Regions from separate parts of the Homo sapiens genome. Here region 2 is linked to region 1. Evidence: fine-mapped expression QTL. A gene starts in region 1. The other region holds a variant in brackets. All regions are shown on one strand. Distances are from middle to middle. Region 1 holds the start of LINC01738 (long intergenic non-protein coding RNA 1738). Region 2 has its middle 76 kb from the start of FOXD2.

Evidence for each region. PIP is the estimated chance that this variant, and not a neighbour inherited with it, causes the effect.
Region 2: its variant is the best candidate, but not a certain one, in a credible set for the expression of LINC01738 in tibial nerve (GTEx, PIP 0.71).

What each region holds. Positions count from the first base shown.
Region 1 is chr1:47,686,511-47,690,902 of GRCh38, forward strand. LINC01738 (long intergenic non-protein coding RNA 1738) reads left to right here and starts at 1,988. Exons shown (of 3, transcript XR_001738040.3): 1 at 1,988-2,072. It overlaps LOC124904174 (a long non-coding RNA gene), which reads right to left. Exons shown (of 2, transcript XR_007066067.1): 2 at 4,011-4,392. RefSeq lists enhancers at 330-1,018, 1,019-1,707.
Region 2 is chr1:47,511,793-47,516,184 of GRCh38, forward strand. No RefSeq gene overlaps it. Among named protein-coding and RNA genes, the nearest start is that of FOXD2, 76 kb to the left of the region's middle. The variant G/T (reference allele first, on the strand shown) is at 2,458.

The DNA of each region.
Region 1 (4,392 bases):
TTGTTTCTCAAATAACTGGCCATTTTCAATTCAAGTACTTGCTTAACTATATCCAACTGTTTTGTTTTCTGCCCCCACATAACTGAAGTTTTAACCCTGGGGAGGAAATACAATTCTAACTCCGGGCTTTTTTTAGGTGGCTTCAGCTGTTTGGTCCAAGAGGCCTGGCTGGTGTGGGTCAATGAAGAGGAGGTAATATCTTCTTAGGAGACCTCGCACAGGCTCAGTCAGCCCAGGGCCAGGAATTTTTATCACAAACCTAAAGATAAGCACCTCCTTCCCCAAAGGCAGGAGCAAGATCTGTTCCGGCAGGGTGTCAGAGAGGGTTGGGCTCAGGTTTCACTGTCTGCAGATTTGGAAGCTGAATGTACTCCTTAACAGCATCCCCCACCCCATAACGTCCCTCTTTCCCATCCATCCTCCTAGTCCCAGTCCTGGCCCCTGATCTAGAGCTCCCCAGAGAAGAGCAAAGACAGAGTCACTCAGTCAAGACAGACACATGGAGACAGGTTTCCAGAGCTTTCACTCCCACGAGCCCTGTGCAGCCAGCTCAGCACCACCTTAAAGCCCACTGCTTTTCCAATGGATGAGAGAAGGGAATTTACTTGTCTTTTCTTTTCAGTGGCTCCAGATCATACTCCAACTAGCCCTTCCCCACACCTGCGCTGCCCCATACTGACTTCAGGGGTCTGGAGAAAGGACACGGTCACCAGTGTGAAGTACGGGCCTGGTTTCCCCGGGGAGAACAGAGTCAGCCTATCTCCCTGCCCAACCTCACCACCTGAGGACCTGTCCAGGCCCCGTGTCTACACCACACCCCACTAGCCCTTGGCTGGCTCGGCCTGGCAGTGACCACGGGCCCCGGGCTCTCTTCTCTCCACCTTCCCAGGGCCTGGATGGCCTTTGAGTAAACAGATAGCCCAGCGAGGTATGTGATCAATTAGCTTTGCTGAAAATGCAATCATTTTGTTATTCCAAGCTGATGAGAAGGCCTGCTCTCCCAGCCTCCACATGCCAATCAGCCCGTGTCACCGATATAATTTTCCACATAAACACAACCTTTGTGCAACATCTACTCTTGTAAATAGATGTAATTCCCAAACCAAATAACGCACTTGGAGGGGAAATGGATATTATGCATGCAAAAAGAAAAGCCGGCGATTTTTACACTTTCCAGGCAACAAAAGATTACCCCTAATTGCGAACGGGGGAGGGGGTGGCGGCGAAGCAGGGAGGTGGCCCGCTGCTGGGAAGCCAGGGAGGCCAGCTTCCAGGCAGATTTTTTTCTCTCTCTGCACATGTGTGAGCACAGACCACCAGGAACTGCTTAACCGGGGACTTGTCCTGTTTAGGCAACTGGGGAGAACGTGGTTGTTGTTGTTGATATCTTAAAGGAAACGGAGAGTTACTTAATTATAAGGTTTGGTCTCTCTTGCCAGGAGAGACCCCCTCCAAACCCTAAACTATACACATCCTGTTGCAGAACTTCCTCCTACATTCCTGGTAGGGAATGGCCTCGCTGGGTTGTGGAGTGTGTGAGTTCCTCTGAAATGCATTGGTGTGTCTTTCTCAATGTTCTGCTCATTTAAGTGAATCCATAAATTAGACCTTGAAAGCAGCGGAAGTTCTCGGGCAGCCAGGGAGTGAGAACGCTGCAGAACCCACTTATAATCCTGGCCAGGTTCTGGGCACGGGCTGCTCCCTGGGCTCTCTGAATGCTACGGAAATGAAGGCTGGGACGCCTCTCCCGAGCCCCTGGCCTCTCCTCATCCCCTGGCACAAGAGGGAGAAAGCTCTTTGGGGTCACTGTCAGCCCCCTCAGAGCCCCGAGCCAAAGGGAGAGAGCAGCCCGGCACAGGGAACGGCAGGATTGCTGAGCTGCCCCCGTGTGGTGCCAGGGGGCCCAGGGGCCCCACAGGCAACCCCACCCCGGGCCAGGCGGTGTGGCCCACATGAGAGCTGACAGCAGCCTCTGGATGTACTCCCGTGCATCTGGAAGGGGAGAGAATCACAGACGATGTAATTTCAACAAGGACGATTTCGGTCTTTTGCAAAGACCCTTCTATTAGCAGGTGAGTAATCACATCTTGGCCTCAAGAAGGCCTCGATGTTTCCTATAATGCTTCTGGGTCTTTATTTCATCAAGGTTCAAAACAGTGTGTGAGGCGTTAGAAAGGGAGTGTGGGTCTCTATATTGACAGCGAGCCAACACGGGCGAGCGGGAAGGAGCAAGCAGCGTAACCACGGCTCCAGCTCCTTTCCAGGTTCTGTCCCCAGGCCTGGGAGGGGTGGACGGCCCCTAATACTTCAGCTACAAAACATTCTCCTATCTGACCCCCACCCCTCCCCCTGCCCACGGAACTCAGCCTAAGAACCCTCCTCTCTGAGCGTCCATCCGTCCCTGGCTCCCAAAGCCCATCTGAAACTCATTAGCTGCTTGAAATGATTGTCATGGGAGCCCTTGATGGGGAACAAGAAAAGGAGAGGGATACTTTTAAAGGACAGCAATCGGGACCCAAATGCTGGCAGATGTTTGGAAACCTGGCTTTTGAGGAGGGGCCTCCCGGAGGCATGGGGCCAACTCCTCGGCCTGACCCTGGCCAGGCCCCCACCTCCCATGCCTTTGTCTTTCCAGGCAGCTCCTGGAGCACTGGCTGGGTAAAGCAGCTGTCTTCAGGTCTCCTTTGCCACTGAGGAAGAATCCATGGCCATGGGATGTGCTCCAATCTGATTAGGAGGACAGCTGTGGAGGTCCCTTGATTCTTTGTCACTTGCAGCTTAATTCCTGCATTTTGTAGATAAAATGACTTTGTGTTTGTAATAATGATATCATAAAATATGAGACATGTTGGAATCATGATAGCATATAATATTAACGTTTCAGAACTAAGACTCCTTGACATTTAATCTTCAAAATACAGAACATTGAATAAAAAAAAAAATTGTATTGTAGGGTCTTAGAAACCCAGTATGTTAGAATCTTAGATTGTGGGAATTCTTGAAAACTTGATTTAAAAAATCATATAAATGCTTTAGATTTTTAGTAGCATAAAACATTAGAATTCTAGAATTTTAGGATTATGAAATCAGAATTCTAGAATACTAGAATTATAGAGCATTATAAATATAAAAGAATAAATTTATAGAAATACAGAATCATGACCTCTTTCAATCACAGAACTTGAGAATGGTGGAATATTAAATTAAGGAAACAATGATAGAATCTTAGAATTACAGGAGGATATTAGCATCATGGAATGGTAGAATTAGAGAACCATAGTGTTTAGAATTAGAGAATCATAGCAGTTTATAATTACAGACTCATTGGATTATAAACTCTTAGAATCACAGAACCTTAGAATCACAGTGTCTGTTAGAGAAGTATCAGATCTATGAATTACAGAATTTTAGAATTATAGGCTTTTAGACATAGCCTTGAAGAATTTCAGAGGCAAAAAGGGATTTAGAGGCCATTTGGCCCTACTCCTTGCTCAGTCCTATTCACACACACACACACACACACACACACACACATGCGTGCAAGCGCGCGCGAAACCTCTCGGTAACCCTGTGCTTATGTCTAGACAACGCAGTCTAATTTTATCGTTCCTTACATCCCCTAGAGCCGCCGACCTCCTTTTCTGTCTCCCCTCTCTGCCTGCCTCTCATCATTACAAATTCCTACCAGCCCCCTGTTTTTCAAGGGAGAGCTTGCTTTTCGTTTTGCAAATCATCCAGCATCTTAATTCACCATGCCTGTGTCTTGCAGGACAAGGCTATTTCAGTGATTAACATATCAGGGAAACGAAGCCTTGGCTTCATTTGGGATATGGGAGGGAGAGCAGGAGGGACAGGCAGGGGTGTGTGTGTGGCCTCCTAGAAACAGCATCAAGCAGGCCCACATAGGAACCCATGCTGCCCATTCCCTCTTGGAAGGAGGTGGGAGCCACGACAGTGGCTGCAATCATGCAGCCTGGCCTATCTAGGTGAAAGGAGATTCGAAACTGTAAGCCATTTCATGCTTATTTATTTTATGATCCTCATGGGCTGGGTTTACACAGATCGGACAACATGTGGATTAGATAATTTGCTGGGAATTAACAGCCTCCGATGGTTATCAGTCTTGGGGATTAAAGCTGGGTTGATGACGATGGTTCAGTGATGAGTTGATGATGTTATCCATGTCCTCATCGGGGTTCAGAGAGACGTGGTGGCTCATCACCCAGTCATAAATCCCCACCGGGACAGCATAGTGGAAGAGGATGGTTAGGTATCAACTGGAGATTAACACTTGGGATTCTATTACATTTAGGAATAAACCAAAAGCAAAACAAAGTCGGCTTCAGAGTCAGCCTGGTAATTTAGAAAATATTGCCTTCGGAATGAATTCAT
Region 2 (4,392 bases), 170 kb before region 1:
CCACGAGCAAATCTACTTCCTCTGTTCTGTGACTTTGGAGATTTAGACACAGTAAATCAAATCTATCTACTCACTTATTCTGGCCCACCCTAACCCTTTCCCTCCCAACCATACCCCTCCCACCCATACTTTTATCCATCTATTCATCCTTCCCATCCATCCATCAATCCCTTCATCCATCTACTCTTCTATCATCCACTAATCATGTAACGATCCATCTCTCCATCACGCATCTAGTCATTCACTCACTATCCACTCATCAACCATCCATCCATCAATATATCCACCCTTCCCTCCTTTTTTCTATCCATCCATCCATCATCCATCCATGTAATTATTCAGTCACCCACTGTTTATCCATTCATTCATCCATTTACTCTTTCACCCACTTATTCACTTATTTATTAATTCATTGAGGTACAACCATTCAAATAGTACTTGTTAGGCACTCTGGGGAAGGAAACAAAGGTGAATATGCCCTCAGTAAACTTGGGAGAGAGAAATAAACCAGGCTCACACCTACAGAGCTTACTTATTCCTAAATGTCAACAATCTAGGAACTTTCTCAGTAATTTGTAAATCAGTGTCCAGTGAAAGGTTTAGGCTCTAAGTGCAATCAGGAGAGGGGGCCAGTGTGAGGTGGGCTGCTCAGGTTAGGCTTCCTTTGCATTATAGTCCTCATGGAACCAGCTGGTATCTTAAGACACAATCCTGTCTGGACCAGCATTGAAGTTTTGCACTGTGCTTAGTCTTGATTCCATTCATTCATTTGTTCAATGAGTACTTTTTGAGCACTATTACCTGTCAAATTCTTGGGTGGTGAATAACAGACAGATCCTTGTCCTTGCTAATCTTATCATCTAGTGTGGGAAATTAATACTAAACAAGTGCCTAATATAATTTCAGACACTGATAAGTGCTATTAAAAAAGAGCAGGAGAAGACAGCAGGAAGGAAGATGATATTTTAGACAAGAAGATCAGGAAGGTTTTTCTTAGGAGTTGACATTTGGTCAAGAATAAGAATTCCTGGGAATTCCTCGGACTGGGAATTCCTGGGAATTTCCACTGGAGAAAGGGAAGGAGATGAACAAGGGGACTGAAATGGTGGGAGGCTTGGGTCCTTAATTGGAGAGAGAGGGACGATACATCAGTAAGCAGGAGCTAAAGTTTTCTTTTGAAGAACTCTGCTCAAGGAATCAGCCCTTTGTGGTCTACAAAGGGCATTCACTTGGTTTATCTCACCTGTTAGGGCATTTTCCTCATTTTTGGTGAGGAATGGAAAAGAGACAGGGTGTAATTTAACTAAGGTCCCAGAGTGGGTCAGGGATTCAGGTCTCACATCTGCACCAGGGTGGACTCCAGCTCCTAGTGCACACCTGTCCACAAAACCTCCAGGTCTTGGGTAGGCTGTGTGTGGGAGGTTTCTCCACCCTGTCAGTCCTTTTCTGGAGGTGAAGGTGTATTGGGGTCTAGTTCTTGGAGACTCCTGATTTCTCTTTTTAACGTGTCAGACCCAGGGAGTAAAAAGTGAGCCTCAGAATCCCCAAAAAACCAGGATAGGGTGGAGCTCAGGAGAGGCAGAAGGCCAAGACAAAATGAGTGCCTTGCCTTTGGGGACAGAGGAGACAGATTTTATTCACTCAACCTAAAAACAAGAGCCGAATGGAAGTCGTCGTAGGCTGAGAGTCCAGACACCTGGCCTCCAGCCCTGGTCTCTGGATTGCTGTGTGCCATGGTTTGGATATGGTTTGTCCTTTCCAAAACTCACATTGAAATTTGATCCCAAATGTGGTGGTGTTGGGAGATGACTCCTAGGCAGGGAGGTGTTTGGGTCATGGGGGTGGATCTCTCATGAATGGCTTGGTGCTGTTCTCCCAATAGTGAGACCTAGGTTCTCTGCTCAGGGCCTCACCAGGCTGAAATCCAGGTGTTGGCTGGGGCTGCAATCTCATCTGAGGCTCATAAGTCCTCTTCCAAGCTTGTTTAGGTTGCTGGCAGGATTCCATTCTTTGTGGCTATAGGACTGAAGCCCTCATTTTCTTGCTGGCTGTTAACTGGGCAATTTCTCTCAGCTCCTGGAAGCTGACCTAAGGTCCTAGCAGCATGGTTCTCTCTCAACATGGCACTTACTTCTTCAAAGCCAGCAGGAGAATTTCTCTCCAGTCTATTATAATGGAGTCTTACATGGTGTAATGTAATCTATGCCATCACTTTACCATATAATGTAACCTAATCAAAGGAGTGTCTTTTCCATCATATTTTTAGATTTTGTACATGTTTTCAGGTGTGTACACTGTGGGTGGGATTCTTGGGGGAGAACTTAGAATTCTGCTTATCACAAAGGCCCAAACTTTAAGACACAGCAATTTCTCTTTTTGCCTTTTTGAGAGTCCTGAGCTACGATATAATAAGTCCTGCTACTCTGTTGGAGAAACCATATGGAGAGGCTAGGGGAG[G/T]GATGGAGGGAGGGAGATACTTGGGGAGGGAGAGACCTAGATGCCCTAGTATCCCAGCTGAGTCAAGCCTTCCAGCCATCCCCAACAAGGTGCCAGACATATGAGTGAGTCATCTTGGGTATTCCAGCACAATTGAGTCCCCTGAAGACTGCAGCCTCAGCTTACATGTAGGGCAGAAGAACCACCTAGCTGAGCCCAGTCAGCCCACTGAGAGAGTGCACTAAATTGTGCAAGAGGCTTTCACTGACTCCATCTGCCAAAAGTTTTTTGTTCTGGGAGGAAACATGGTTCTGCCCATTGTATTTCTCAGTGATGGGAAACCTGTCTCCTGCATGGACATTTCCAAAGCAGGGTCTCCACTGGGCCATGATTGAAAATCTATCTGGTCCCTAGGTTGGTCCTTTCCTAATGATCTTGAGAGGTGGCATGGCTGAATGGCAGAAAAATTCTGGACAGGGAAGCCAGGGACCTGGACTGTAGCACAAACTCTGCTGTTACCCTGCTGTGTGATCTTAGAACTACAGCTGTCACGTCTCTGGTGCTTTCCATGTGCCAGGCAGTGTTGTAAGTGCTTTATACATATTCACTCGTTCAAACCACATAATAACTCTAGGAAGTAGGTACAATTATTACCCAATTTTACAGATGAGAAAATGGAAGCATAGAGATATTGAATCACTTACCTAAAGTTACATAGCTAGGAAGCCATGGAATCCATCTCTTTCCTGGACACAATGGTCTGATCCTAAGATTCTAGAATTTCATGGTTCTAGGAGTCTAAGATTCAACAATTTTTAAGGTTCTGGCAGCCTAAGATTCCATCAGTTTGAAGATCCTTGAATCCACAGATCATAAGCTTCTAGAATTCTCAGATTGCAGTTTGAAAAAGCAAATTCCTGCCATCTGCGAGGGTGGGGGTCAGGGGACATGATGGGGAATGACTCAGCTTGAGCCCTCGGCCTTGCTCAGCCCTCTGCTCCAGGAGTTAAAGATGTTGCCTACCCCTTTAGGCATTTGCTTCATTTATCTGAAACCCAAAACCTCTCTTGGAACTGGGAGCCCTGGGTGGTATGAAAGCAGGAGGGAGACCTCCTTGCCTGATAGGCCTGCAGCATCCACGGAGAGGGGCCAGAATAAGCAGTGAAACCAGGACTTGGAGTTCCCTGAGAATGATAACATTCTCTGTATCCCGCAGACCCCAAATAAACCCACGTTTTCCGCAGGCTCTGCTGAGGCCTGAGGAGAAAAGGGAAGGATGGTGGGAAATGGCTGATGTTTCCATAGGACCCACCACCCTGGGTGTTGTGTTTCTGTTGGAGAGGGGGCCACCTGGCTGGTGGCCCTAGAATAGCGGTACACTCCAGGACCACAGGGAGGCCATCCAAGCGGAAGCAGGGCTGGCCGGCTGTGTTGTATAGGCAAAGATAAGGAGCCAGGTCAGGGTTGACATGTGGAAGTGTTTAGGAGCCTGGGAGATTGGGCACTGCAGAATGACATATTCTGGAGGGACTAGGGGGCCCAGGGGTTACTGACTCCAGTGGCCTCATTCTATAGATGGTGAAACTGAGGGGAAGAGAGTTGTTGCCATGGTACATTTAACATGGGGTTCAATAAAATCTCTGGAATTGACCCCAATACAGTCAAACCCCTGTACTTCAGCTACACCAACTAGTGACCTTAACCCAAACTCTGGGCCTTTGCTTATGTTTTGCATGCTACCTGGAATGCAGTTCCACCCTGTTCTTTGCCTGTAGAAACACTTCTCTTGGAAGGTACAGCCCCAATACTACCTCCTCCAGGAAGCCTTCCTTCATCCCTTCCCCGTTTCTGATGTCCTCTCACCTGCTTCTAGGAGCACTGAGGGCATTTCATCTGCCCCTTCCTTTTGCTCTATGTCATATTCTCCTTCAGAGTAATTGATATGATTTGGCTCTG